2 separate regions of the Homo sapiens genome follow, and region 2 is linked to region 1. The links come from fine-mapping of genetic effects on gene expression. A gene starts in region 1. The other region holds a variant in brackets. All regions are shown on one strand. Distances are between the middles of the regions. Region 1 holds the start of TMEM216 (transmembrane protein 216). Region 2 holds the start of SAXO4 (stabilizer of axonemal microtubules 4).

What was found.
Region 2: its variant is fine-mapped to the expression of TMEM216 in spinal cord (GTEx, PIP 0.92).

Annotation. Positions count from the first base shown.
Region 1 is chr11:61,381,903-61,397,541 of GRCh38, forward strand. TMEM216 (transmembrane protein 216) reads left to right here and starts at 10,685. Exons shown (of 5, transcript NM_001173990.3): 1 at 10,685-10,763; 2 at 11,329-11,430; 3 at 11,982-12,074. The coding sequence starts at 10,730. RefSeq lists a silencer at 3,762-3,921 and an enhancer at 10,450-11,411.
Region 2 is chr11:61,468,682-61,484,320 of GRCh38, forward strand. It overlaps SAXO4 (stabilizer of axonemal microtubules 4), which reads left to right and starts at 12,439. Exons shown (of 14, transcript NM_145017.3): 1 at 12,439-12,535; 2 at 13,101-13,237; 3 at 13,630-13,747; 4 at 13,974-14,127. The coding sequence starts at 13,129. RefSeq lists an enhancer at 13,876-14,170. The variant C/T (reference allele first, on the strand shown) is at 10,372.

The DNA of each region.
Region 1 (15,639 bases):
CGGCCTCTTTCTCAATATTGAAACAGGGTCCTGCGTGTGTGCAACTGAAACCACTAGAGAGGAAGATGGGAATCTTAGAAGGGAAAGAGCCAGAGAGGGAAATCCCCACATTCTGTCTGCCCACACCTCCGCCCAAGCTCTGAACCCCACATAGGGAACTCAGACTCCACGCAGCTCAGTTAAAGACAGAAGATCTAAAGTGGCCAGGTGTGGTGTCTTGCGCCTATAATCCCAGCTACTCAGGAGGCTGAAGCCAGGAGTTCAAGACCAGTGTAGGCAACATAGTGAGGAACCACCCCCCAATCTCTAAAAATAAAATAAAATAAAATAAAAAAGATCTAAACTGAAAATTGGAGCTGCCAACTCAATAAGGGTGACTGTAGTATATATGTAACTGAGCTAACCGCCTGATAAAATTAAAAAACATCACTCTTTGGGGAAAAGTAACTGAAACCAGAGTCTCCAACATTTACAAGTGCCACCAAAGAGATGGTCCAGATATCGGAATTAACAAACAAGGATATGAAAGCATCAATGAAAATATTATCTCAAAGCTGGGCACAGTGGCTCACGCCTATAATCCCAGCACTTTGGGAGGCCCAGGCGGGCGGATCAGCTGAGATCAGGAGTTCAAGATCAGCCTGAACAATATGGTGAAACCCCGTCTCTACTAAAAATACAAAACTTAGCCGAGCGTGGTGGCATGTGCCTATAGTCCCAGCTACTCGGGAGCCTGAGGCGGGAGAATCGCTTGAACCCGGGAGGCAGAGGTTGTAGTAAGCTGAGATGGTACCACTGCACTCCAGCCTGGGCTATAGCGAGACTCCGTCTCAAAAAAAAAAAAAAAAAGAAAGAAAGAAAGAAAAGAAAATATTATCTCAGTAAATTAAAAGACAGGCAACCTCGGGCTGGGTGCAGTGGTTCATGCCTGTAATCCCAGCACTTTGGGAGGCCGAGGTGGGTGAATCACCTGAGGTCAGGAGTTCAGGATTACCTTGGCCAATATAGTGAAACCCCATCTCTACTAAAAATAAAACAAAATTTAAAAATTTAAAAAAAATGAAGCTGAAATAAAAACATTTTCAAATAAAAGAAAACTAAGAGAATTAGTGCTGCACTATAAGAAACATTAAGGCGGGGCACAGTGGCTCACACCTGTAATCCCAGCACTTTGGTAGGCCAAGGCAGGTGAATCACTTGAGGTCAGGAGTTCCAGACCAGCCTGACTAACATGGCAAAACCCTGTCTCTACTAAAAACACACAAAAAAATTAGCCAGGCATGGTGGCCCATGCCTGTAATCCCAGCTACTCGGGAGGCTGCAGAGGGAGAATCACTTGAACCCAGGAAGCAGAAGTTGCAGTGAGTCGAGATCACGCCACTGCACTCCAGCCTGAACTCTGTCTCAAAACAAACAAACAAACAAACAAACAAAAGATAGGCCAGGCACGGTGGCTCACGCCTGTAATTCCAGCATTTTGGGAGGCCGAAGCGGAACACCTGAGGTCAGGAGTTGGAGACCAGCCTGGCCAACATGGAGAAACCCTGTCTCTACTAAAAATACAAAAATTAGCTGGGTGTGGTGGCACATGCCTGTAATCCCAGCTACTCGGGAGGCTGAGGCAGGAAAATCGCTTGATCCCGGGAGGTGGAGTTTGCAGTGAGCTGAAACCTCGACACTGCACTCCAACCTGGGTGACAGAGTGAGACTCCATCTCAAAAAAAAAAAAAAAAAAAAAGATAGTATTTAGGTAAACATAAAGATTATTTTTAATTTTTTTCTATTTTTTCTTTCTAGTAAGATGAAGGTCTCACTATGTTGACCAGGCTGGTCTCAAACTCCTGGCCTCAAGCAACTCAAGCAATCATCCCACTTCAGCCTCCCAAAGTGCTGGGATTACAGGCATGTGCCACCACTCCTGTTTAATTTTTGTATTTCTAGTAGAGACGGGGTTTCACCATGTCGGCCAGAATGATGTCGAACTCCTGACCTCAACTGATCCGCCTGCCTCGGCCTCCCAAAATGCTGGGATTACAGGAGTGAGTCACTATGCCCAGCCGGTCCCAGCACTTAGGGAGGCTGAAGCAGGAGGATCACTTGAGACCAGGAGTTTGAGACCAGGCTGGACAATATAGCAAGACCTTGTCTCTATTAAAAAGAAAAAATTAGCTAGGCATGGTGACATGTGCCTGTAGTCCTAGCTACTTGGGAGGCTGAGGCAGAAGGATTGCTTGAGTCCAGGAGGTCAAGGCTGCAGTGAGCTATGACTGCAGCACTGCACTCCAGCCCTGGGCAACAGAGCAAGACCCTGTCTCAAAAAAATTAAAAAAAAAAATAGAAAAAGTAAAAAAGTATTAAACTATAATAAGAGAGGAATTATAAGGAAGTAAAGAGGGAAGTACCCAAGGAAGGGCAAACTCAGTAGGGTCCCCACCCCCAAGGCAGGGGTTCAGACTTCACTGCATGCCACTCACTGGGCAGTGTGAAGTTCACTGATTAGCCCAGGCCAGAGCTGTTTCACAGTTGCCAGGCAAGAAACAACCCTCCAGGCCAAAAGCAAGCTAAGGCTGGTAGGCAGGTGCTTAGAGCACATGGGGACACCACCTGCCCAGAGCACATAGCAACACCACCTGCCCAGAGCACATAGCACCCGCATTGGGAGGCCCCTAGGAAACAACCTTCCAGGTCGCAGGTGAGCCCCAGCTGTCAGACAGATGCATCAAAAGAGCTGGAATGCCCCATGTGCTTGGAGTGCATGGTGTCCACACAGGATATGGAGGATGGGAATCAACCCTCTGGGATGCAGAAGAACTCAGATTGGTGAGCAGACGCACAGAGGAAGTTGGGGCACAGCCTTGACCGCACGTTGTCCATGCCTGGAGGGCTTTGGGGAAAACCATCCATGGCATAGGTAAGCCAAGACTAGGGGGCAGGTGCACAGAGTTAGGGAGCTGCCCCAGGTGGAAGGCCTGGAGTAAGCGGCAACCATGACAAGGAGTCCACAGCAAGTTGGTCACGGGGCCTAGACCAGATCGGCAAAGTTGCCAAGGGAGTGCCGGCTTTGGGTGTGCAGCTGGAGTGGAACACCAGCAGATCTCCCAAGGCGTGCCCTGCTGATGGACGATGGAGCAAGGCCCCTAGCTGGAGTGCACTGGAACCAGAAGACAAGCCCTTTCCTTCCTGCAATGTCCTTCTAGCGTCCTCTGCTGACAAAGCCTAACATTGTACTCATTGTAGGGAGAAATGCTTCGAGTCTAGTTATCGCTTAACAGACACCGAAGGGTAGGTAAATAATGAAGCTGAGAGGCAAAAAATAGGTAACTGGCAGAAACCATTCTTCCAGCTACTCCACTACCATATGCACTCTTTACACAAATTTTGAACTCCCTTAGTAGCTACATTCCTACTAACAAGATATCTCCTCTCTAAAAGTGAAGTTCTCAGCCTTCCCCCAAATGATAAGACACACAGTCCAAACAGTCACTGTATCCATAGCTGGCTAGATTACTCCACAGATTTGTCGTGATCCCTATTACCTAAAAACTATTACCTAAAAACTATTACCTGTGTCTATTACCTAAAAACTAGATTGTAAAGTTGACCTCCAACAATTTGCACATAAAATAACAAAGGGAGGCAAAAGACATGGTCAGTACATACAAATAAACACATGCATGTAAGAAGCAAAGAAGAATATGCATCGCTGCTACAGTCCTCGTTTTTGTAACTGATCATTTTTGTAACTAATCACGGTCATAGTTGACATCCATGGTTTCCTTAGAAAAATCCGAAGGCTGCACACTGGAACCCGGGAGAGCCTCTTTGTTTCTGCAATAGCCCTCTAGTGCCCTCTGCTGACAAAGCTTAACACTGTACTCACTGTACGGGATAAATGCTTAGCGTCGATCCGGTTATCATGGAACAGAACAGGTACTGAGAGTGAATCTGGAGCTGAGGCAGTGTTGATAACTGCCATACTAGGAAACCACTAAATATTCAGAAATTAAATAAGGCTGGGCACGGTGGTTCACGCCTATACCATGTCACTCGAGCTCAGGAATTCCAGACCAGCTTGGGCAACATGGCAAAACCCCACCTCTACTAAAAATACAAAAATTAGCCAGGCGTGGTGGCACGCACCTGTAGCCCCAGTTACTCGGGAGGCTGATGCATGAGAATAGCTTGAGCCTGCAAGGCACAGGTGGCAGTGAGCTGAGATCGCACCATTGCACCGCAGCGTGGGCAACAGAGAGTCTGTCTTAAAATAAATAAAATAAAATAAAATAAAATAAAATAAAATAAAATAAAATAAAATAAAATAATAAATAAAATAAAATACACTTATAAATAGCCCATGGGTCAAAGAAGAAATCATAAGGGAAATTAGAAAACACTTTGAACCCAGCTGGGCGCAGTGGCTCATGCCTGTAGTCCCAGCACTTTGGGAGGCTGAGGCGGGTAGATCACTTGAGGTTAGGAGTTCAAGATCAGCCTGGGGGCAACATGGTGAAACCTCATCTCCACTAAAAATACAAAAATTATCTGGGTGTGGTGGCACACACCTGCAATCTCAGCTACTTGGGAGGCTAAGACAGGAGAATTCCTTTGAACCCAGGAGGTGGAGGCTGCAGTGAGCTGAGATCGCACCACTGCACTCCAGCCTGGGCAACAGAGTCAGACTCTGTCTCAAAAAACAAAAACAAAAACAAAACAAAACAAAACAAAAAACCTAAAGAAAGTAAGAAGAAGGAAATTATAAAGAGCAGAAATTTGTAAAATAGAAAACAAATTTTATACGATGAAGAAAAAGAAAGTCGAAAGCTGTTTTTAAAAAAATTAATAAGGCTGGGCACGGTGGCTCACACCTGCAATCCTAGCACTTTGGGAGGCCGAGGCGAGTGGATCATGAGGTCAGGAGTTCGAGACCAGCCTGGCCAACATGGTGAAACCCCATCTCTACTAAAAATACAAAAATTAGCCGGGCGCAGTGGTGGGCGCCTGTAATCCTAGCTACTCGGGAGGCTGAAGCAGGAGAACTGCTTGAACCCAGGAGGCGGAGGCTGCAGTGAGCCGAGATCACACCACTGCACTCTAGCCTGGGTGACAGAGCAAGACTCTGTCTCAAAAAAATAAAATAATAATAATAATAATAATAAGAAACCAGGCATGGTGGCTGATGCTTGTAATCCTAGCACTTTGGGAGGTCGAGGCAGGTGGACTGCCTGAGCTCACCAGTTCGAGACCAGCCTGGGCAACATGACAAAACCCTGTCTCTACTAAAAATACAAAAAAAAAAAGCCGGGAGCAGTGGCTCACACCTGTAATCCCAGCACTTTGGGAGGCTGAGGCGGGCAGATCATGAGGTCAGGAGATCGAGACCATCCTGGCTAACACGGTGAAACCCCGTCTCTACTAAAAATGCAAAAAAAATTAGCTGGGCATGGTGGCGGGTGCCTGTAGTCGGCTACTCGGGAGGCTGAGGCAGGAGAAGGGCGTGAACCTGGGAGGCGGAGCTTGCAGCCAGCCGAGATCGCACCACTTCACTCCAGCCTGGGCGACAGAGCAAGACTCCGTCTCAAAAAAAAAAAAAAAAAAATTAGCCAGGTGTGGTGGTGCATGCCTGTAGTCCCAGCTACTTAGGAGGCTGAGGCACGAGAATTGCTTGAGCCTGGGAGGCAGAGGTTGCAGTGAGCCAAGATCGTGCCACTGCACTGCAGCCTGGGCGATAGAGTGAGACCCTGTCTCATAAAAAAAAATAAAAAACAAAAATAAAACGTTAATAAAATTGATAAACACCTATCAAAACTATTGAAGAAAAAAATATGAAAGAAAAGGGACATCACTGCAGTTCTTACATCCATTAAGTAATATTTAAGGATTGCCTGGTGACTTTTTTAATTTTTAAAAATTAATTAGTTATTATTATTCTTTAGACAGAGTCTCGCTCTGTTGCCAGGCTGGAGTGCAGTGGCATGATCTTGGCTCACTGCAACCTCCACCTCCTGGGTTCTAGCGATTCTCCTGCCTCAGCCTCCCAAATAGCTGGGACTACAGGCATGCACCACCACACCTGGCTAATTTTTTTGTATTTTTAGCACAAATGGGGTTTCACCATGTTGGCCAAGCTGTCTTGAACTCCTGACCTCAAGTGATCCGCCTGCCTTGGCCTCCCAAAGTGCTGGGATTACAGGTATGAGCCACTGCGCCCAGCCTGACTACTGACTTATAATACAGAAAAAAAAAGAATTGAGGAATGTTATGAAAACCTTCACACCAATACATCTGGAAATGTATACAAAATGATTTACCCAAACCTTATTCAAGGTTTATGCAAACACAAATTCACCCAAACCTTACTCGAGAAGTAGAATATCTGAATGTTCTTATATATAGTACAGGGATTTCATTATTTTAAACTCCCCCCCACCAAAAAAAAAATTTAGGTTTAGATGGCTTCATCAGTGTATTCTTTCAAATACTTGAAGAAGAAATATTACCTAGCTTACACTATCTCTTCCGGAGAATAGAAAAAGAAGAAATACCTTTCGCTTTATTGGATGAAGCCACCTTAACCTTAATACCCACCCTTGACAAGGTCCTTGACAAAGTTAAATTACAGACCAATCTCTCTCATGATACATATGTAAAACCTGAACAAAATTAGCAAATGAAATCCAGTGACATATAAAAAGGATAACATATCTGTGTCAGGGGTCTCCAAGATCACACCCAGTTTGGATGATTTGCTATAAGGACTTATGGGACCCAGCATACAGGTGTATTCATGCCTCTGATCTATTACAGTGAAATACAAAGCAAGGTCAACAAAGGGAAAAGATACATGAGGCACAGTCAAGGAGAAACTAGCAGCATGCTTCCAAGAGGTCTATCTCAGGGGGAATCACACAAGACGTTCATCATTCCTCCAGCAACAAATTCTGATAACATATGTGCAATGTTGTCTACTAGGAAAGCTCACTTGAGACTCAGGGTCCAAGTTTTATTTTTTTTATTTTTATTTTTTTAAACAGTTATGGTTCACTGCAGCCTCTTCCCTCTACCTCTTGGGCTCAAGCAATCTTCCTGCCTCAGCCTCCGAAGTAACTGGGACTACAGGTGTGCACCACCATGCCTGGCTAAATTTTTTTGTTTGGGTAGAGACAGGGTCTCACTGTGTTGTCCAGGCTGGTCTTGAACTCCTGAGCTCTATTGATCCTCCTGCCTCAGCTTCCCAAAGTGCTGGGATTACAGGCATGAGCCACTGGACCCAGCCCCCAAGGTTTTTACTGGGAGCTGATCATGAAGGCACCCTCTGCCTAACATGTTTCAAAACTCCAGACTCTGAGAAGGAGAACAGGTATTTAGCATAAGCCACATTGTTTGTACAGTTTAGGCACTGTGAGCCACTTTAAACTGGTGGGAACACTACCAAAAGCCAAGTTCCCTTACGCCAGGCAAGGGTCAACCTTGCAGTTGGGCCTCTCCAAAGACAGCAGCCTCAGGTCTGCTATGTTAAGTTTTTTCTGTACAGTCTCATAAGCAAATGGGTTTTTTATTTTTTCCAGGAAGACATGGTTGGTCATACCTCTGAAAATCAATGTAATTCATATTAGCAGAATAAAGGAGAAAAATCATATAGTCCTCTCAACGGATTAAGAGAACACACTTAATAAAATATATCATAAGCCTTTTAGCAAACTAGGATAATAAGGGACTTTCTTAATCTGATAAAGAGTATCTACAAAAAAAATCTATAGCCACCATATTAATGGTGAGATATTGAACGCTTCCCCTGAGGTTAGGAACAAGACAAGACTATCCATCATCACCACTTATAGTCAACATTACACTGCCAGTCCTGGCCAGTGCAATAAGGCAAGAAAAAGAAATTGAAGGTATAGAGATTGAGAAGGAAGTAAAAATGTCTTTATTTACTGATGATGTGATCATGTACATAACAAGCCTCCTAGAAATAATCAATTTAGCAAGGGCACTGGCTGTTGGGACAGTCTTGCATGGGTCCTAAGCATCCCTGCATGTTCTTACTATGTCAAACCAGAAAGTCTGTCTCCTGATACTGAGCACAGAAGCAATTAAGTAGACCAAAGTGACTATAGTGTGATGATAGTATAATTTCTCCCTCCCCAGTGGAAAGGGCCTGGCTTTATTTGCTGCTTGCTAAAAAGGGTACTGAGCCTTTGGCTCTGGGCTCCACCAAGCTGTGGCATAACTCCTTGAGTGCAGCACCATCTGGGGTCATTGTGTCACTCATAGGACTTGGGAGCAGGGGGCCCCCAGGTTGCCATGCTGATGTTCCTGCTGTTTGCCATAAGTAATTTGGCCTCACTGTCAGCTTTTGGCATCTATGAAGTTGTGGCATACTCTGACATAGATTAGCCAACTTTTTCTTAAAGGGTCAGATGGTATTTAAGGCTGTGGGCCATGTGGTCTCTGTTGCAACTACTTAACATTGCCATAATAGCATGAAAGCTGCAATATATAATAACATGTAAGTAAGTGACCATGATGACGTTCTCCAAAGAACTTTTATTTACAAAAACAAGCAGCTGGCCCACTTTCTTTGTTTTTCTTTTGAGACATAGTTTCACTCTTGTTGCCCAGGCTGGAGTGCAATGGCTTGGTCTCAGCTCACTGCAACCTCCGCCTCCCAGGTTCAAGCGATTCTTATGCCTCAGCCCCCCAAGTAGCTGGGATTAGAGGCATGTGCCATCATGCCCGGCTAATTTTGTATTTTTAGTAGAGATGGGGTTTCACCATGTTGGTCAGGCTGGTCTTGAATTCCTGACCTCAAGTGATCCACCCGCCTCAGCCTCCCAAAGTGCTGGGATTACAGGTGTGAGCCACCGCGCCAGGTGCAGCTGGCCCACTTTCTTTCCATATCAGGCTCAGAGCAGGAACTTTTCTAATGTCTCTTGTCTTGCAGGCAGCGAAGATGGGGAAGCAGGATCTGGATTCCTTTCCACCTTAACCTCTGTGCTCTGCGCTTTCCTACTTACCCTAAAGGGCTTCCTTGCCCTCCAGCTTGCAGTTAAGTTGTGTCAGCGGGAGACATAAGCAGAGATCAGAGATGGGAGAAGGGAAATGGAGGTCCCTGCTATATTTATCCACTAGCCTCCTAGAGTGTGAGGGTTCCTAGTGGGAGGCCTTCTATGCACATATTACTCTCCAGCTTCAGGGAATTGTTTCAGGCCCTTCCCTTTTAAGCCTAGAAGTAACAATTACCGCCCCACCACATCCCAATTAGCCAGGGGTACAGCACTTTGCTTAAAGCTTAGTCACTCTTGGCCGGGGGCATTAATCACACCTGTAATCCCAGCACTTTGGGAGGCGGGGGGGGGGGGGGGGGGGGGGGGGGGGGGCGGGTCACCTGAGGTCAGGAGTTCCAGACCAGCCTGGCCAACATGGTGAAACCCCGTCTCTACTAAAAATGCAAAAATATTTAGCCGGGTGTGGTGGGGGGCACCTGTAATCCCCGCTACTTGGGAGGCTGAGACTGGAGAATCGCTTGAACCCAGGAGGCGGAGGTTGCAGTGACCAGAGATAGCGCCATTGCACTCCAGCCTGGGTTACAAGAGCAAAACTCCGTCTCAAAAATAAAATGAAATAAATAAAATAAAGCTTAGTCACCTTCCTCAGGCTACCTGGTTGGAGCGTGCCATCTGTTTCCTGCTTTACCCTGATTGACAACGGGCTAACAGCCAAGTCAAGTCAACCTGAGTCCTCTCAAAACCCTTCTTTTTGCACTCCCCTGCCTGCAGCAACACAGTTTTCTGTTTTTTTTTTTTTTTGAGACAGAGTCTCACTGTCGCCCAGGCTGGAGTGCGGTGGCGCGATCTCAGCTCACTGCAACCTCCGCCTCCCGGGTTCGAGCGATTCTCCTACCTCAGCCTCCCAAGTAGCTGTAACTACTGGCGCGCGCCAGTACGCCCGGCTAATTTTTGTATTTTTAGTAGAGACGGGGTTTCGCCATGTTGGCCAGGCTGATTTCGAACTCCTGACCTCAGGTGATCCATCACCTCGGCCTCCCAAAGTGCTGGGATTACAGGCGTGAGCCACTAAGCCCGGCCAGCAACACGCTTTTACCGCTGCAAATCCGGATCAGGCAGGCTTTGAAGCCCAGCTCACAGGCCGTCTCTTGGAAACTAACTTAGATTTCCACCTGGGAGCACTTTGTCCTCTCAGCTCCCACTGCACCACTTTATGGATCGCGTGGTGACTCGTTTCATTTTATTTATGTGTGTTCCTGGAAAGGACGCTCTATTTCCTTCGTGTCTCTACCTGGTAGGTAAATCGGCCGCAGAAAAGACCAATGCTAACTCCACCCTGCATTTGCAGAGATCCGTCGCTCACACCTTTTCTTGTCTTCCGTTGAAAAAAGAGAATCGTGGGAGTAGGACCTATTTGCCAATCTCCTGGTAACACTATCACAACTGGCCACTTCCGCCCAACGCCCGGTAGTCTGAGAGCCTCCAAGGTCCTCCCCCGCACCCCTGAGGTCCTGCAGACGACGGCGTCGTGGGTGGTCACCGTTATCCCTTAGGTCTGGAGAGGGGACATCCGAGCGAGGGCCACTTGCGGCCAGGCCCGAGCTCGTCCAGCTCCGGGTGACCACAGAGTGCCGCGGGCGGGCAGAGGGGCCGGAAACCCAGGCCGCTTCGTCCCTGTTTCCGGCAGCGCCGCGCTGCTCCGGGAGCCGCTGTGGCAGCGTATGCTGCCACGGGGACTGAAGATGGCGCCGCGAGGTGAGATTCCGGAGGTGTGTGAGTCGCTGGTCCCTTTCCCTTCGGTCGCTCCCTCCCACCTCTGTCCCAGAGCTTGACCTAAACCCTCCATTCTCTAGCGTTAGGGACGTCGCGCCTCCCTGGTCCAAAGCCGGCTTCCGCGGTCCCGCCCACCCTGGGTGCCTGAAGGTCTCAAGGTGCACAGCTCAAATAAACGCAGATCCTTGGCTGGGCCACTTCTAGGCTGGCTCAGGTGCGAATCTGTTGGTCTCTGCGCCCCAACTTCCCCTCCCAAATAGTGACAGAGTGAGATCTTTGAGATGTCTGTCAGCTGCGAGTTACCTCTTGACTTTTATTCCTGAAGCCGAAGAGTCGAGTTTCACGGTGATTCCTAGGAAAGGAGGGAAGCCCCCTCCACTCCCACCCCCGTACCCTCGCCCCCTCATTATCAGCAACCAGAAGTGCCCCTGAGTGGCCGGTCCCATTAGTTGCAGCGTCTAGTTTCCCCAAAGTTAGACACCAACCCATACGAGCAGAGAGGGAGCTGCCTTCCGGCCCATCCCACTTCTCTGTGCTCCTTTTTCAGGTAAACGGTTGTCCTCCACCCCGCTGGAAATCCTGTTCTTTCTGAACGGGTGGTATAATGCTACCTATTTCCTGCTGGAACTTTTCATATTTCTGTATAAAGGTAAGGAAGGCTTGGGGCTTGACGACAGCATCCCTTCCCCACTTCAGCTCAGAGCCAATTCCTACCAAGAACCTTCTTATTTTCCGTTCTTTTCTGCCCCCTGCAGTTCTTTGTCGCTGCAAGGCAGGCCTCCTCATCAGATGGCTTCTTTGAGTATGATTCCATAGGCAGCCCCTCAGCAAGAATTTCTTGAGTTTGAGAAATGTGGGCTTCTCCATTCTGACTCTGCCCACATCACTGCTCTTTGCTGAGCTCCACTGTAAGCCCACTGGTGACCCTTAGAAACTATTCAGTGGCCTGTGTACCCATGTACATCCAATCATTTTGGAGAGTGGAGTCCCCAGAGACTTTTGGAGTTAGGAGTAAAACACCATAATAATGAGCCTGAGTCGCATTGTGAGTTTATGTATCCTGCTGCTGTAATAATGCCCACATCTCACTAACTAGTTCATGGAAAGCTGAGACTGATGTCCTCTTTTTTCCCAAGTGTGTGGCAGTTCTTGTGGGTGCTGTTATATGCTGTTTGCAAACTCTGGCTTTTGTATTGGCAGGTGTCCTGCTACCATATCCAACAGCTAACCTAGTACTGGATGTGGTGATGCTCCTCCTTTATCTTGGAATTGAAGTAATTCGCCTGTTTTTTGGTAAGTGTTGTCCAGAGAATATTTCCACTCCTTATGAGACAAGCTGGTATCTGTAACTTGATTAACAAGAAAAGTACATAACCTAGGTTGACTATCATAGACTGGATCTGTATATCCTATTACTCCGTCTCTGAAGTTTCAAGTTGCTGCTTCATACATTGGGTCAAGATTTACCTGTTTGTTGCTCTGTAAGGCTAGAGATGGGCAATAGAATGGGATATTAGATGATTCCTTCCCAGCTGCCTAACTGCAAGAAGAGTGCTTGGTTCTTCTCACTAGTATTCTTAGGGGAATAGGTTCAGTTGTAACTCCACGTCAGGGCAGGCAGTGTATCCTGTACAGATCAGTACTAAGATCCCTAACAATTCTCTGAATAAGGATCTCTGTAGGAGTTTTTTGTTTTTTTTTTTTGAGATGGAGTCTCACTCTGTCCCCAGGCTGGAGTGCAATGGCACGATCTCGGATCACTGCAATCTCTGCCTCCCGGGATCAAGCGATTCTCCTGCCTCAGCCTCCTGAGTAGCTGGGATTACAGGCGTGCACCACTGCTCCCAGCTAATTTTTGTATTTTTAATAGAGACGGGGTTTCACCATGTTGGCCAGGATGGTCTCGATCTCTTGACCTTGTGATCTGCCTGTGTCGGCCTCCCAAGGTGGTGGGATTACAAATGTGGGCCACTGCACCTGGTTGGATTTTTTTTTTTTTTTGAGATGGAGTCTCACTCTGTCACCTGGGCTGGAGTGCAGTGGCACCATCTCGGCTCACTGCAGCCTCCGCCTCCCGGGTTCAAGCAATTCTCCTGCCTCAGCCTCCTGAGTAGCTGGGACTGCAGGCGCCTGCCACCATGCCCGGCAAGTTTTTATATTTTTAGTAGAGATAGAGTTTCACCATGTTGGCTAGGATGGTCTCGATCTCCTGACCTCATGATCCACCCGCCTTGGCCTCCCAAAGTGCTGGGATTATAGGTGTGAGCCATCACACCTGGCCAGATTTTGTTTTTTAAACATTTATTTATTTGAGACAGGGTCTCATTCTGTCACCTAGGCTGTAGTACAGTGGTACGATCATAGCTCACAGCAGCCTTGAAGCCCTGGGCTCAAGCAGTCCTCCAACTTCAGCCTCCTGAGTAGCTGGGACCACAGGTGTGCGACATCATACCTGGCTAATTTTGTGTTTTTTGTAGAGACAGTGTCTTGCCTTGTTGCCCAGGCTGGTCTGAAGCTCCTGGCCTCAAGCAATCTTCCTGCCTTGGCCTCCCCAAGGTGCTGGGATTACAGGCGTGAGCCAACATGCCTGGCCTGTAGGACAAGTTTTATAACCCCAGAAATACAGAGCAAAACCCTTATTTGTTAGAATATGTCATCCCTGAAATCAACGTTAAAGCACAAACTTAGGAACAAAATTACTTGCAACATATAAGAAAGGATAAAAGAAGGCTCACATAAATCACTAAGGAAAAAACAAAATAACTTTAAAAATTGGCTGGGCGCAGTGGCTCACGTCTGTAATCCCAGCACTTTGGGAGGCCGAGGTGGGTGGATCATTTGAGGTGAAGAGTTTGAGACCAGCTTGGCCAACATGGTGGCCGTCTCTACTAAAAATACAAAAATTAGCTGGGTGTGGTGGCGCGCACCTGTAATCCCAGCTACTTGGGAGGCTGAGGCAGTAGAATCGCTTGAACCCAGGAGGCAGAGGTTGCAGTGAGCCAAGATCGCCCACTGCACTCTAGCCTGGGCGACAAAGTGAGACTCAAAAAAAAAAAAAAATTGGTAAGGGACATTAATGGCAGTTCATGTAAAAATAATTACAGAGAACCAGTAAAACTTGACAAGATGCTCAAACTCGCTAATAAAAATCAAATTGAAACAAAGTAACATTTTTTACCCATCAGACTGGCAAAGAAAGATTTATAACACCCAGTATTAGGGTGTGGGGAACAGGTTGTTATACACTTTTGTGGTAATTTAATTTAGTACAACTCTTGGGTAGTAGTTATTACTGTGTAATGTTTTACTGTTAGCCCCAACAATTTCACTTCTAAAACTAGATTAAAAAAAAATTCCACAGATATGCGAAGATAGCTATATGAGAATGTTTATTGCCAAAAATTTGGTAACATCAAAACACTGTAAACAAACTAAACATCTGTCCATACGGGATTGTTAAATCAGTTACGGCACTGATTCAACGGACTTGTATATAACCATTAAAAAAGAACAGTTGCTGGGCATGGTGGCTCACGCCTGTAATCCCAGCACTTTGGGAGGCTGGGGCAGGCAGATCACGAGTTCAGGAGATCGAGACCATCCTGGCCCACATGATGAAACCCCATCTCTACTAAAAATACAAAAATTAGCTGGGTGTGGTGGCACGTGCCTGTAATCCCAGCTACTCGGGAGGGTGAGGCAGGAGAATCACTTGAGCCCGGGAGGCGGAAGTTGCAGTGAGCCGAGATTGCACCACTGCACTCTAGCCTGGCGAGAGAGCTAGACTCTGTCTCAAAAAATTAAAAAAAATTAAAAAGAACAGTTAAGGCCAGGTGCAGTGGCTCACGCCTGTAATCTTAGCACTGTGGGAGGCCGAGGCGAACGGATTGCCTGAGGTCAGGAGTTCGTGACCAGCCTGGCTAACATGGTGAAATCCTGTCTCTACTAAAAAATACGAAAATCAGCTGGGCATGGTGGCGGGCACCTGTAATCCCAGCTACTTGGGAGGCTGAGGCAGGATAATCGCTTGTACCTGGGAGGTGGAGGTTGAAGTGAGCCGAGATCGCTCCATTGCACTCCAGCCTGGGTGACAAGAAACTCCGTCTCAATAAAAAAAAAAAAAAATTAGCTGGGCATAGTGACGTGTACCTATAGTGGGAAGATCCCTTCAGCCCAGGGGTTCGAGGCTGCAGTGAGCTATGATGATGCAATTGCACTCCAGCCTGGGTGACAGAATTAAACACTATCAAAAAAAAAAAAAAATTAAGGTAGCTATGTGTGTGGAAAAATGTTTGTGGGGGAAAAATAAGTTGCAAAACAGGATGTAGGGTATGCTTCTATTTTTATAATAATAAATAGTAATATGTGAATATATACGTATAAAAAATCTGAAACAATACACGTCATTCTCTAATAATCTTCAGGGTGTAGGGACATGGAGGTCTTTCACTTTCTATAGTCTCAAAAATTATTTTCTGTGTTGAAATTTTTTTTTTTTTTTGAGACGGAGTCTTGCTTTGTTCCCCAGGCTGGAGTGCAGTGGCGTGACCTCTGCTCACTGCAAGCTCCACCTTCCGGGTTCACACCATTCTCCTGCCTCAGCCTCCCGAGTAGCTGGGACTACAGGCGCCCGCCACCACGCCCGGCTACTTTTTTTGTATTTTTAGTAGAGATGGGGTTTCACCGTGTTAGCCAGGATGGTCTCCATCTCCTGACCTTGTGATCCACCTGCCTTGGCCTCCCAAAGCGCTGGGATTACAGGTGTGAGCCACTGCACCCGGCCATTGAAAATTTTTAAATGATTATATATTATTTTTATAATTAAAAATTTTGTTTTTCCCAAATAAAGATCCCATTG
Region 2 (15,639 bases), 87 kb after region 1:
GAAAATGGCACATTCTGAAGTGGAGCTCAACAGGTAAGAATGAGACCATTCTAGCATTGAGCCCTGGCTCCTTGGCTGACATTCTGTGTGACTTTATACAAGCATCTTCACATCTCTGAGCCTTTGTGTACACATCTATAAAATATGGACAATGTGGCTGGGCATGGTGGCTCACACAGTCCCAGCACTTTGGGAGGCCGAGGCGGGTGGATCACTTGAGCTCAGGAGTTCAAGACCAGCCTGGCCAACATGGTGAAACCCCATCTCTACTAAAAATATAAAAATTAGCCAGAAATCGCTTGAACTCGGGAGGTGGAGGTTGCAGTGAGCTGAGATCGTGCCACTGCACTCCAGCCTGGGCAACAGAATGAGACTCTGTCTCAAAAAAAATAAAATATAGACAATGCTTTTGGCACACTGTATGGATAAAGCACATAGCACTGTGACCTGGCCATTGGAGAGGCAGCATTGCATTGCAGCTAAGCTTGCAGGCTTTGGAGTCAGCCAGACCTGCATTTGAATCTTACTCATCTGCTTTTTGTTTTGTGTCTTTATTTGTGTGTGTGTGTGTGTGTGTGTGTGTGTCAGAGAGAGACTGTTCTAAGCAAGCACATTACATGGAAGTAACTGGAATTGGAACTCAGGCACGTTGGCCTCCAGTAAGCATGCTTGTACTGTTACCCTACACGGCCCTTAGGTTAGCACAGAGAGATTATTTATTTATTAAAAAAAAATTTTTTTTTGAGATGGGGTCTCACTCTGTCACCTAGGTTGGTGTGTAGTGCTACAGTCTCAGCTCACTGCAACCTCTATCTCCCAGGCTCAAGCAATCCTACCACCTCAGCCTCCCAAGTAGCTGGGACCATAGGCGCACACCACCACACCTGGCTATTTTTTTTTTTTGGTAGAGATCGGCTTTCTCCATGTTGCCCCGGCTGGTCTTGAATTCCTGAGTTCAGGCAATCCGCCTGCCTCAGCCTCCCAAAGTGCTGGGATTATAGGTGCCAGCCACCAAGCCCAGCCCAGAGAGATTATGTGTAACTCTCTCTACTACTAGTTCCATGGGGGATAAGGACCATACATACATTACGTTCCATTCTGTTCTGTGTTTTAGCACAGTGCCTGGCACATAGTTGGTGCTCATTAAATGTTCATTGAATGACTAATTGACTGATGAAATAAATGAAGGTAGAGACTCTTTATGAAGCTGCCTGTGCTGGATCCAAGACCATTGATATCTGTTGCAAATGGAAGTTGTTAATGAGACTCAACAAGTTAGTGGAAAATGTTTTGAGTGTTTTATGAGATTCTCTTTTTTTTTTTTTTTTTTTTGAGACAGGGTCTCACTCTGTTGCCCAGGCTGGAGTGCAGTGGCGAGATCTTGGTTCACTGTAGCCTCAACCTTCCAGGCTCAGGCGATTCTCCCACCTCAGCCTCCCAAGTAGCTGGAACCACAGGCATGTGCCACCACGCCCAGCTAATTTTTTGTTCACCATGTTGCCCAGGCTGGTCTCAAACATGGACTCAAGCAATCCACCCACTTCGGTCTTCTGAAGTGCTGGGATTACAGGCGTGAGCCACTGTACCTGGCCTTTTTTTTTTTTAATTGGTTAATTTATTTATTGAGGCGGAGTCTCACTCTGTCGCCCAGGCTGGAGTGCAGTGGCACGATCTCGGCTTACTGCAACCTCTGCCCCCCGGGTTCAAGCGATTGTCCTGCCTCAACCTCCCGAGTAGCTGGGATTACAGGCGCCTGCCACCGTGCCTGGCTAATTTTTGTATTTTTAGTAGAGACGGGGTTTCACCATGTTGGCCAGGATGGTCTTGAACTCCTGACCTTGTGATCCACCTGCCTTGGCCTCCCAAAGTGCTGGGATTACAGGCATGAGCCACTGTGCCCGGGCTTTTTTTTTTTGTTTTTTTAATTAACTTTTTTAAATTTTAAATTTGAGACAGGGTCTTGCTATGTTGGCCAGGGTGGTCTCAAACTCCTGGCCTCAAGCAATTCTCCCACCTCAGCCTCCCAAATTGCCGGGATTATAGGCCTGAGCCACTGCACCCAGCCACAGGATTCTCTTAAAACCACAAACTTACCATACTTTCTAGATGTTTCCTTTCCCTCCTATGCATGATATAGTTAGCCACTATCTAATTGAAAGGTGTACTAGTCACGTTAGGCTAGACTATGATAATAAATAAACCCCCAAATCTCAGCGACTTAACAACGCAACCCTTATTTCTCATTTGTGCCAAGTCCAATGTGAACTGGGCAGCTGTTCAGGACAGCTCCTTTCTGTGGCAGCCCAGGGATCCACGCTCTGCCATCTCAACATGTGGTCTCCACGGTTGCTACTAAAGGGAATGAGAAAGTGCGGATAACTCACATTCACTTGCAACCTGGAAGCAACACGTGACACTTCTCCGAGCCCTTGGGCCGGAGCTAGTCACATGTTCCTGTGGAACTGCAAGGAGCCTGGGAGGTGTGGTTCTCCCTGGTACCCAGGAAGGAGAAGAGAACCAGATCTGGCTGAGCCTGAAGTCTCTACCACAGTCTGTTCTGCTGGTCTCCATGTACCGCATTGGATTTGCTCTTCTTCCTACACACAACACACAACATGAAACTGCTTTCCAAGAGAGAAAACCCAGAGTGATGTGCAGCTCCTGCCTCCAGCCAGGATCTCATGGGCTGCCCTAGGGTCTCTTTATGAGGTCTAGAGGTGGCCTTTTTTGGTCCAGAGATGTAGGAATTTTAAAAAGTTACCTGTTGGGGGCCGGGTGCGGTGGCTCACGCCTGTGATCCCAGCACTTTAGGAAGCCAAGGGGGTGGATCACCTAAGGTCAGGAGTTCGAGACCAGCCTGGCCAACACAGTGAAACCCTGTCTCTACTAAATATACAAAAAAAAAAATTAGCCAGGTGTGGTGGCACGTGCCTGTAATCCCAGCTACTCAGGAGGCTGAGGCAGGAGAATCGCTTGAACGCAGGAAGCAGATGTTGCAGTGAGCCAAAATTGTGCCACTGCACTCCAGCCTGGGCGACAGAGCGAGACTCCGTCTCAAAAAAAAAATAAATAAAAAATAAAAATAAATTTTAAAAGTTACCTGCTGGGCACAGTGGCTCACACCTGTAATCCTAGCACTTTGGGAGGCCGAGGCAGGTGGATCACTTGAGGACAGGAGTTTGAGACCAGCCTGGCCAACATGGAGAAACCCCATCTCTACTAAAAAATACAAAATTTAGCCAGGTGTGCTGGCGCATACCTGTAATCCCAGCTACTCGCGAGGCTGAGGCACAAGAATCATTTTAGCCTGGGAGGCAGAGGTTGCAGTGAGCTGAGATCATGCCACTGCACTCCAGTCTGGGTGACAGAGCAAGACTCTATCTCAAAAAAAAAAAAAAAAAGGCAGGTTACCTGCTTCTCCCTTCCCACCCCCACGCCATACACAAAGGTGGAGTAGGGGCAGGGACAGGATAACCACAGTAAGGATACCCCGGGAAGTGGGAGCTGAGGCCTTCTGGGCAGACCTTGTGGAGGGGTAGGGAAGTTTCTGGAAGGAACTACCTTCATCGCTGCTCTCAGGGCCGCTTGGCTCCCTCATTTAAAGCTCTTTTTCCCCTACCTTACTTTACTCGATCATATCTGAAGTAGGGATTGTGTGTTCCACCCTCCTTGAGGGTTGTGTGGATTTCTCAGCCCACTTCCTGCCCATGGAAGTTTTAAGTTTCAAATAGTCACAATCTTTTTAAAGACCAGGCCCATGGCCAGGGGCGGTGGCTCATGCCTGTAGTTCCAGCGACTTGAGGCTGAGGCGGGAGAATCTCTTGAGTCCAGGAGGTTGAGGTCACAGTGAGCTATGATTGCGCCACTGCACTCCAGCCTGGGTGACAGAGCAAGACCCTTTCTCTAAAAAAAAAAAAAAAAAAACAAAAACCAAACAAAAAAAGCCCCATTTTTTTTGGGCATTACTGTTTTCTCAAAATTTCAGTAGGCCTCTCATCTGTCTGCTTCCAGTGAGTTTCATATGCCTGAATGTGACAGTTAATTTGTGTCTCAATTTGTCTAGGTGACTGGGTACCTGGATATGTGATCGAGTATTCTTCTGGGTGTTTCTATGAGGATGTTTTTGGATGAAATTGGCATTTAAATTGGTAAACTGAGTAAAGCAGTCTGTCCCCCTAACCGGGGTGGGCTTCATGTAATCAGCTCAAGGTTTGAATACAACAAAAAGACTTACACTCTCGCAAGTGAAAGGCAATTCTTTCTGCCTGGTAGCCTTCAAACTGAGACACAGGCTTTTATCCTGCCTTCAGATTCGCCTGGGAACACTGGCTCTTCCTGAGTCTCAAGCCTGCTGGCCTTGAGACAAGAACTACATCAGCTCTCTCAGTTCTCAAGCCTTTGGACTTACTCTGGAACTAAGCCATCAGCTCTCTTGGGTCGTCAGCTTGCCAACCAACTCATCCTGAAGATCTTGGGACTTGCCAGCCTTCATAGTCACGTGGGCCAATTCCTTTTTTTTTTTTTTTTTTTGAGATGGGGTCTTACTCTGTTGCCCAGGCTGGACTGCAATGGCACGATTATGGCTCACTGCAGCCTCAACCTCCAGGGCTTGAGTGATCCTCCCACCTCAGCCTCCCAAGTAGCTGGGACTACAGGCACATGCTACCATGCCCAGCTAATTAAAAAAAATTTTTTTTTTGTAGAGACGGAGTTTCACTGTGTTGCTCAGGCTGGTCTTGAACTCCTGAGCTCAAGCAACCCTCCACTTCAGCTTCCCAAAGTGCTGGGATTACAGGCATCACTGGCCCAGGCAGAGCCAATTCTGTATAATAAATCTGTCTCTCTCTGTCTCTCGTGTATGTGTGTGTGTGCACATTCTGTTTTGCTAGAGAATGCTGACTAATACAGAATCACATCCTAATTTATTTCCTAAGAAGTTCTCAAATCTTCATTTCTTTGCTTATGCCGCAGTAACAAACAAAACCCCAAACCTTAGAGGCTTAAAGCAGCAAGGTTTATCTCTCTATCACATCCCAGTGTGCTGCAGGAAAAGCAGCTCCAGGGCAGCTGACTCCATGCAGTGACTCAGAGATCCAGCCTGCTTCCATCTTTTGGTTCTTCCATCCCAAGTGTGATTTCTACCCACAGAGAATGGAAAACTCACACCCACCTCTAACTACTCAGACTGGGAGTGGCACTGCTCAATTCCACCCACAGAACCAGCCATGTGGCCCTTATCTAACTGCAAGGAAGGCAGGAAAATGCAATGATAATCATAAACATTTCTTGAGTGCTTTCTCTATGCCAGGCTGTGTGCTAAGCATGTAAATATTGTCTTTTCTGTATTCCAAGCCTAAGTCTCTTAAAGTTCTACTGTGACCTCATCATACAGCCAAGGAAACAGGCTCGGAGAAGTTAAGGAAGTTGTCCAAGGGCACATACCTCATAAAGGCAGGGCTGCAGAATTGAACCCAGATCTCTGTGCATTGGAAACCCACCCCCTTGACCCCTGTCCTGGTTCCTTGCTCATCTCTGCCAAGAATATCTTCATTCCATCTGAGGATTGGGAATGGCTTCTTATTTTCTGCCTCATCTCATTTCATCTTCCCCGCGAGTCATGAATTTTTAAACCTTGTGTGAGATCAACAAGTTCACCCAGAGGAGACAGTAAAAGAACAGAACAGGCAGGAACAGAACAGCCATCAGATACACAGGATAGAGTCTTCCAGGAAATGCCCACTGAGGGGAGAAATGAACCACAAGTGAGGCCAGGATTGTGGGAGGCTGTGAGGGAAAGCAATCCGGTCATCAGGGGAATCATTTCCTTTTACGAAAGAGAGAGAGATGGGACTTAGCCATTAGACTTGGGCTATTTCAGTTCCTGGTAATGACACAGCTCAGTGAATAGAACCCCCAAAGCACTTTCGGAAGGGGGGCCCCAGTCCTGGGCAGCTCTCCTGCCTTAATCACTGCAAGTCACAGAGCAGAGAAACTGGAAATGGGCAAAATCGATGACAGGCCTGCCTGCAGACCACGCCCTGGACCCAACCTGCGCCCCCACGGTCATTATGTCACCCATCACTCCTTGGTGCTCACACAGCTGAGCCCATGAAGCAGGGCAGCCCCCACTCCCAGGACTAGACAGAAAGGTGGTTGCACGAATCCAGGGCTCCATGCTCTTCCCCATCGCAGGGAAGACAGGGCCTCACAGACTTGATGTCCTCCCAGTCAGCTCTTCTCTGCCATGATCCCCTTTATGCTGCGTCCCAGCTTCAAACTGCTCCCCTGAAAGGGTCAGTTGGAGCAGCTGAGCTTGGGGCATCTCACCTGGGTGAGCTTTGTTGGTGGGCTCAGAAGAATCTGGGTTGGGAAACAGTACTCTGGGGGCAGAATGAGGGGTTCAGTGAGCCCTTGTGTCCTTTGTGGGCACCTTGGAGTCTGGCTTGGGAGAAACTCCCTGTGCAGGTCCAGCAGGCCTAGAGGCCAGGCTGAGTGTGGGTTGGCATGAGGCCGACTCCCCTCCATGCCCCGCTGTAATAAGGCAGAGGGGAAGGACCTTGGAAGGGGGTAGGCTGGGGTCCTGCTATGTCACAGATGGCAGGTGAGGGGCCCAGGGGGAGGGGACGTGGAACCAGCCATCACTTCAGTATATGAAGACAGAGCTCCAAGTTCTCCAGGCCAAACAACACATCTCAAACTAAAGCAAGCCAAACCTCCTATCCTGGCTCAACCCCCTCTTCACAGGCAACAGGATCAGAGGGAGGCAGTTAATTAAGAAGGGTCACATAGCACTATTTGTGCCAGAGCCAGACCTCAAACTCAAGCCTAGAAAAGGCTCAGAAAGGGGCAGGCATGTAACCTCAGATCACCTGAAGCCAAGAAACATTACTCTAGGCTTGTCCCAGCCTCCAGCATGGGAATTTCAAAAGTAGGAGTATAATTACCCTCTCCCTGCCACCCCCAGCCTCCTGGGCTGGGAGGGCTCAGTGCCTTTAGCTGCATCCCAGGGATCTGTTTCCCATTTCTCAATCATCTTAGCTGATTCGAACAATTTCAGACCTTTCTTCTGTGAATTTTTCACCCAGCAGTGCCCAGCACAAACTGAGGACCATGAGAGGGGTGAACTCTTTAAAAGGATTTTTAGGCCTAGCATGGTGGTTCACACCTGTATTCCCAGCACTTTGGGAGGCCGAGGCAGGAGGATCCCTTGAAGCCAGGAGTTTGAGACCAGCCTGGGCAACAAAGCAAGATCCTGTCTCTATAAACATTTTCTTAAAATCTTTTTATTTTTTTTTCTCTATAGAGGTAATCAGGTTTAAAAAGAGATTTAAAAAGTCATAGGAGGTCAGATTTTGAAAATAGATCTGAGAACCTCTAGCTCAACCTTTGAGGCAATATCAAAGTGGTCACCAGCATGACCTTTGAAGTCAGGATGTCTGGGTTCAAATAATGGCTTTTCCCCTTAGTAGCTGTGTGACCTGTGACAAGTTACGCAGCCTCTCTGTGTCTGAGTTTCTTCATCTATAAAATGGAGGAGCTGATACCACCCACCAGGTAGGAATGCGGTGAAGTTTAATTGTGCTAATCATGGGAAGTGCTTAGAAACAGTCCCTGATACCTAACGAACCAGTGAAAGTTTGCTCTTATTGTCATCCTGTCAAGCTGTTGCATGCCTCCTGGGATGGGGAACTCACTCCCCCCAGGGCAGCCTGTTCCCCTATTGGATTATTTTGTGTGTTAGGAGGCTTTTCTATCCATTAAGCTGAAGTATGCCAACCTGTCTCTTCCCTACAAGAGCCCTGGCTTCCCTCTGAGGGCGGCTATAAAGACCCACATCAACCAAAGCAAAATGACACACACTTGGTGGTGTGTGGCTCATTCACTTCAGTTAATCCTCTTTTAGGGAACTGCAGCCCACATGGCCCAGCACAGAGCGCAGATGTCTGTCTCTGCTCAGGACTCAGCACTCAGTGGTGGTGTGCTCTGGCCTCGGGAGCCTGTTAGGGCCTACCCCACTGATCCCAGCCAAGGAACTCTATGGGCTGAGACCCAGCATGTCCTCTCACTGGGTCCTCTCTGCTAACCTAGTGTGTCTGTAGCCTCTGCCTTCGTATGGGAGGGAAACAGGGGAATCTTTTTTTTTTTTTTCTGAGATGGAGTCTTGCTCTGTCGCCCAGGCTGGAGTGCAGTGGTGTAATCTCGGCTCACTGCAACCTCTTACTCCTGCATTCAAGGAGTTCTCCCTGCCTCAGCCTCCCGAGTAGCTGGGATTACAGGCGCCCACCACCATGCCTTGCTAATTTTTGTATTTTTAGTAGAGACGGGGTTTTGCCATGTTGGCCAGGCTGATCTCGAACTCCTGACTTCAGGTGATCTGCCTGCTTTGGCCTCCCAAAGTGCTGGGATTACAGGCATGAGCCACTGTGCCCGGCTGGAAACGGGAATCTTACTGCCCAGGACTGGGCAGAGCTAGAAAGTAGGAGGCAGTTGCCCATCTGGCCAGGGCAGCCCATCCCTTTGGAAAATCATCCCTTTGGAAAAGCCCAGTGCTAAGGTCCCGGCGCTTTCTGGAGAATTTGCTGGTGTGTTCCAGAGGGCGGGGCATAGATTCCAGGGTCAAAGCTGAGTTTGGATCCCAGCTCCACTCCTCCCTGTCTGCGAGGCCTCAGGCAGTTTCCTCACATGTAACATGGGCAGGATTATAGTAGTTCCCACGTAGAGCCGGGAGTGAAAAGCGATGATGAGGTGATTCGTAGCTCAGCTCTGGCACAATAAAGTGCTGAATAAATGGGGACAGATATGGGAAGGGAGTGGGATGAGGTGGGCCTAGATTTTCCAGTATGGAAGGACTTTTAGTCTGTTCCTTCATTTTGTAGATAGAAGGACTGAGGTCCACAGGTGACAGGTCCAAAAGTCACGCTGCTCTTGGGTCACCTGGCACCTGGGCTCCCGCTCCTTGTGGGCTCCAGCGCTTGCCCTCCCGGAACACTCCTTGCCCAGACGCAACCCTCCTGTTCTGGAGGGATGGGTGAGTGAGGCTTGGGGTGGGGCTGTGGCCAGGTCGACGGAGCTGCTCTGTCCCCAACTCCTAGGACCCCCCGACCCCGGTCTTAGGGATTCATCTGCGGCATCTCCTGCAGTTCCGAGTTATGGCCGCTGGGTGTCGCCACACAGCAAAAAACCCACGGGCCGCCGGGAGGACGGGACCTAATGGGGGCTCTGATGGGACAGCGCCGGCCAGACCCTGATCCCCGACCCTTGAACTCCTGCCCAGGTCCTTGGTCGGCTACAGCCTAGAGCCTCCCTAAGAGAAGCCCTAAGGGATGATTTCAAACCTTTCTACCACCCCTCCTTGCCCCCTCCACCTGCTAAAAGGAAAACCTGGCTACAGCCTACCTGGGGGCTGCTTCTCCCAGCTGAGCCTCTCCTCCCCACGCAGTGCTCCAGCCACGCTGCACTAGTCAGGGCTCCCAGCCTGCTGGACACCTGTCTCCGCCTTTGTGTTTGTCGGGCTTTCCACGTAGAGGGCCCTTCCTTATCTCTGCCTGGTGCAGGCCTGTTACCTCTTGTGCATAGGGTATTTCAAATCCACCAGCGACCCTGCTAGGTAGGCACAGTTATCCCTGCCTGCAGGTACAGAAACAGGCTCAAAGAGAGGAAGCCCCGAGTCACACACAGCAGAAGCAGGTTTTGAACTCGGGCTCCCACAGTGAGCTTTCTTTTGCTACATCTGAGATCCTTCCTAAACCGTGGGCTCTCTGAGGCCAGGGCCATGTGGATTTCCTGTTTGTAACCCTTAGGCCCAACCCTTTGCCTAGCAGGCAGTGAGTACTCAAAAGGAACCTCTTTCCCTAGCTCTTAGATGGCACCTACCGTGTGCCAGGTACTGGGCTAAATGCTTCGTGCGTACCACAACCCTGCAGGTAGTTACCATTATTATACTCATTCTCCAGAAGGGGAAACTGAGGCACAAGGAACATGCACTGTCTTACGGTTATCTAGTGGCAGAGACAGGACCCACACCATCTGGCTTCAGAGTCCAAGCTCTTGCTCGTAGCCACTTATCCAGGCACACTTAGAGGAGGGCCCCTCTCTCCCTTCACCCTGTGAGCACCTCACCTATGGTGGTCTCACCCTTTGTGCTTCGTGTGTGGAACTCCCACGAGCCTCTGTAGTAGAATGGGAGCACTTTGCTGGAGGGCAGGGCTGTGTGCACTCACTCCTGTGTCCTTGTGCCCTGTGATCCCTGAACAGAATCGTTAGTCCGGAGGGTGGGTGCCAAACGTGCTTCAGCTTGCCTTCCCATGGGGGGCTGGGTGAGGACACGAGTGAGCCTCCACCCTGGCAGGCCAGGTCACTACAGGATGAATG[C/T]GGCAAGGGCATCTCCTGGGTGAGGAAAGGAGATGCCTCCTTTCCCTTTATTCAGCCTTCATTCATACCTCACTCTCCCCTGAGAGCAGGGGTGCTCTGAAGCCAGCTCTACCGGCTCAGGAGAGCTGAAGGCGAAACTTCCAGGAAATTGGCAAGCTGGTTTTTAACTCTGCCATTGTTAAAAATTAAATTACTGGCCGAGCGCGGTGGCTGACGCCTGTAATCCCAGCACTTTGGGAGGCTGAGGCAGGCAGATCACTTGAGCTCAGGAGGTCGAGACCAACCTGGCCAACATAGTGAAACCCCATCTCTACTAAAAATACAAAAATTAGCTGGGCGTGGTGGCGTGCACCTGTAATCCCAGCTACTCAGGAGGCTGAGGCAGGAGAATTGCTTGAACCAGGAGATGGAGGTTGCAGTGAGCTGAGATCGTGCCACTGCACTCCAGCCTGGGGGACAGAGCAAGACTCCATCTCAAATAAATAAATAAATAAATAAATAAATAAATAAATAAATAAATAACTTAAACCTGCAATTTAATGAATTATATTAAAAACAAAAAAAAATACCTAAAACTCATCACCCCTTAATTATGTGAGTACATTTTTCTATTATTTGTGCTGTCGAGGTTACTTACGCCCATTATGTCTGCATGATGGGACTACTCCCGTACAGTGGTGAGCGACCTTCCCATGTCCCGGTTCAAAGACACTGTAGTGGTGGTTTGAAAGCAGCCCTGATGGGACCACTGACATCACAGAAATTGGCAAATGCTGCAAAGTAGGGCTATCCCACCCCACCCAGAGATCTAACTGTTACAACATTTACAAGCCTGAAAGCCAATTTGAGGCAAAAAGGCTGTCATGGAAGAAGATTCTCACTGTGGAGTTTGCGCACTCAGATTTGAGTCCAGGCTCCGTCTCCACCCACTGTGGGGCCTGGGCTATTTCCCCTTGAGCCTCGCCTTTCCTATCTGCAAAATAAGACTAAAAGTACAGCAGCTTTTGCAAATTGAGCATTTGCCGAGTGTGGTGGCTTGCCCCTGCAATCCCAGCAACTCAGGAGGCTGAGGCAGGAGGATCACTTGAGGCCAGGAGTTCAAGACCAGCCTGAGCAACATAGCAAGACGCTGTCTCTACAACAAATAAATACATAAATAAGCAAGTCAGGCAGGGGGGAGCACACCTGTAGTTCTGGCTACTTGAGAGTCTGAGGCAAGAGGATTGCTTGAACTTAGGAGTTGGAGGCTGGACTGAGCTATGATGGTACCTCTGTACTCCAACCCAGGTGAGAGCATAAGATCCTGTCTCTCTTAAAAAAAAAAAAGAGCATTTACTACCTGTCAGGTGCTGAATCCATGCTCTTGCTAAATCTGCCAGCAGCCCTGTGAGGTGGGTGCAGTCACGTCCCTTGCGAAGATGGGGATTTGGGGGCGTGAAGAGGATAAGTACCTCATCAAAGGTGACAGATCAGATTTGAACCACACTCTTAACTGCTGCGGTTTATTGGCCCTACAATAATAGTGCCCAGTTCACAGGGTGGTTTGGGGGATTACACGACGTAATGTGTGTTAAAGGGCTTAGCACAGATTCAGCTCCAGAGGAACATAGTAAATGTTGATTTACCGAGAGGCAGAAGAGCGGGATCCACATCCACCCACGTTTGAATCTCAACTTGGCTATTTTCTGATTGCGAGATCTCTGGAGTCAAGTCATTTTGCTTATCTAAGCCTCATGTTCCCCCAGTGAAAATGGGGATAATCATAGCTACTGAAGAGCTGCTCAGAGGATGGAGATAGAGGATGTAAAGTATCTGCCGAGAAGTGGGTACTTTATGGGAGTGAGTGTTCGGGATTATCTTTTATTTTATGTCACGCAGACAGCAACTCTTCCCAGCCCTGTGGAGGAGGCCGGAGGTTGGGGCCGGAGCCCTGGAAGCAGGGCCTTGCTCGGGCAGCTTCTGACCCTCCCCTCCTGGCCAGGTCAGCCCCTCAGTGGGCCCTGGCCCTAGAAGGTCTCAGAAGCCTGGGGACGCTGTTGCTAGGCACCAGTTGCTAGGCTACACATTGTTTCTCCTGCTTGGCCTCCTCCAGGAGGGCTGGCTTCTCTGCAGAGCTCTGCTTCCTGCAGCCTCTCCCCGACCTCAGAGCCTCTGCAGAGGAAAGGTGAGGGTGGGGCCGCTGTGGTTGGGCCTCGGGGAGAGTGCAGCCAATTCCCAGGGGAGGCAGGCAAGGCCAGAGGCGGGCAAGGCCATGGAGATGAGGGAGAGAGAGGAGCCGGGGGCTGGGAGTGAGCGCCTCGGCCTGACTTCTTGGGTGGGGGCCAAGAATTCCCCAGGTAGTGGGTTGTCGGCTCATTCATTCCGAGAGGTGGGTATGTAAGGTTCAGGTCAGGGGCCGAGTAGTCAAACACCTAGGTCTGAATCCCAGCACTACCACCTATTATGGAGCAAATCCTTTATCACTTGGAACCTCACTGTCCCAGTGGTAAATGGGGACAGGAAGAGTTAATAAGAAGGTGTGGGAAAGTGAGAGGAGACATGAGGACTCTTGGGATAAGTGTGGATGATCGGTTTCGTCCTTAGTTTAGGGACTTGGGAGCTGGGGCAGAGAGACAGAGGCCTGGGAGAAGGGGCCAGCTGCGTTGTGGGTGGTGGGGGGCAGATCTTCGCCCCTGTGGGCTTCCGAGCCAGGCTTGGGACCCATGAGGCTCCCCGTGCTTCCTTTCTAGGCCCCCTGGGGCCCTGCCCCACAGCATCATGATGGGGAAACTCCCCCTGGGGGTCGTCTCCCCTTATGTGAAGATGAGTTCGGGGGGCTACACGGACCCCCTGAAATTCTACGCCACCAGCTACTGCACCGCCTACGGTGAGGGTGCCTTTGCGCAGGAGCCTCTGCTAGGACATGGGCAGGAAGGGAGGGGCTCTCTCTGAGGGAGGAGCAGACCCTCTGGCTGTCACACTGCAGAGCAACTGCTGAATCCGTTTGTCCCCTGGGCCCTGCCCGGCTGCTCCCTTCTCTGGTTCTGTCCCTGCAATTCTGTCACTGTGATTCTGCCACACTGACCTTGTCCCCAGCCCACCCACTCCATTTCCTGCCATCACAGTCCTGAAAGGGCAGGCTTGCAAAGCTCCTGCCCGTGGCTCTGAGCCCTCCCCTGTCACTGTGACCCCTGTGCCCCTCGGAGGACGCTGGCCCTGCCTGGGAAGCCCTGCCTGTTTTTGACCTTGGGGTCTGTCTCCCCGTTACCCCTCTGGCAGGTCGGGAGGATTTCAAGCCCCGTGTGGGCAGTCACGTAGGCACCGGCTACAAATCAAATTTCCAGCCCGTGGTCTCATGCCAAGCCAGTCTGGAGGCCTTAGACAACCCGGCCAGGGGGTACGGTCTGTATGGCCCCTTCCCAGCCCCTGCCCTGCTCATCAGACCAACTCCAGGTTCCTTGGATGGGGACCCTGAGCTTTGCCTGCCCTAGGCTGGGGGTCCTGGGTGACTCAGGGCACAGCGGACCTCTGAGCCATCTGTGGGAGGGTGCAGGGAGGAGGGAAGCTCCTTAGCAGAGGACAGAGGCAGGCGGCCTGGGGTTCTAGCTCCTCCTCACCCTCAGGGAACAAGCCCAGGACCATTTCCAGTCTGTGGCCAGCCAGAGCTACCGCCCCCTGGAGGTGCCTGACGGCAAGCATCCCCTGCCCTGGAGCATGCGCCAGACCAGCTCAGGCTATGGGCGGGAGAAGCCCAGTGCGGGTCCCCCCACCAAGGAGGTCAGTGCTGGGCCAGGGCCAGGAGAGGGAAGCCTCAGGGTGGGGTGGGGCTAGGGCTGCACTGCCAACAGTTGGTCAAGGTGGAGGTGACAGGGCATGGAGCAGCCACCTTGTAGGGATGGGGTCCACTCATCTTTCTCCCCTTTGTCCTCATCCTTGTCCCCACCATCCCCACCACCTCTATTCCCTGCCCCAGCCCCACCATTACCTCCACCTCCATTTCCATCCCCATCCCTGTCCCCATTCCCATGAGCCTCACACTCCCGTCCACACCTGCAAGCCCCATCACTGTCCCTACTACCACCACTGTCCCCCCACCATGGACATCCTCACCCCATCTTTTTCATTTCTTTTTCTTTTTTTTTTTTTTTTTTTTGAGATGGAGTCTCACTCTGTTGCCCAGGCTGGAGTGCAGTGGCACGATCTCGGCTCACTGCAACCTCCACCTCCTGGGTTCAAGCGATTCTCCTGCCTCAGCCTCCCCAGTAGCTGGGATTACAGGCATGTGCCACCACACCCGGCTAATATTTTGTATTTTTAGTACAGACAGGGTTTCACCGTGTTAGCCAGGATAGTCTCAATCTCCTGACCTCGTGATCTGCCCGCCTCAGCCTCCCAAAGTGCTGGGATTACAGGCGTGAGCCACTGCGCCCAGCCCCATCTTTTTCATTTCTATCCTCATTATTACCACCCTTCTTATCATCAGCACCACCACCAAAATGGACACTCATTCATTCATCCAGCGAGAATGTTCTGAATATCTCCTTCATATTTGAAGATGATAAGAGCGGGTGGAGTGCGGGGTGGGGCGGGGGTTAGGAAATACAACAGGGAGAAGCAGGGAGGAAGAGAAGTGAAGGAGTTGGAGGCCAGGTGCGATGGCTCACACCTGTAATCCCAGCACTTTGGGAAGCTGAAGCAGGCAGATCACTTGAGGTCAGGAGTTTGAGACCAGTCTGGCCAACATGGTGAAACTCCATCTCTACTAAAAATACAAAAACTAGCTGGGCATGGTGGCACGCACCTATAATCCCAGCTACTCAGAAGGCTGAGGCAGGAGAATTGCTTGAACTCGGGAGGCGGAGGTTGCAGTGAGGCTGAGATTGCCTGGGCAATAGAATGAGACTTGGACTAAAAAAAAATAAAGCCAGGCGTGGTGGCTCACACCTGTAATCCCAGCACTTTGGGAGGCTGAGTCAGGTGGATCACTTGAGGCCAACTGCTGTTGGGTCAGCCTGGCCATCATGGTGAAACCCCATCTCTACCAAAAAAATACAAAAAAAAAATAGCCAGGTGTGGTGGCTTGCATCTGTAGTCCCAGCTACTTGGGAGGCTGAGGCACAAGAATTGATTGAACTCAGGAGGTGGAGTTTGCAGGAAGCTGAGATCATGCCACTGCACTCCAGCCTGGGCAACAGAGCGAGACTCTGTCTCAAAAAATGTAAGTAATAAATAAATTAGAAGCGAAGGAGTTGCAACTGCAAATCGGGAGGGTCGGGAAAGAGCTTGCTA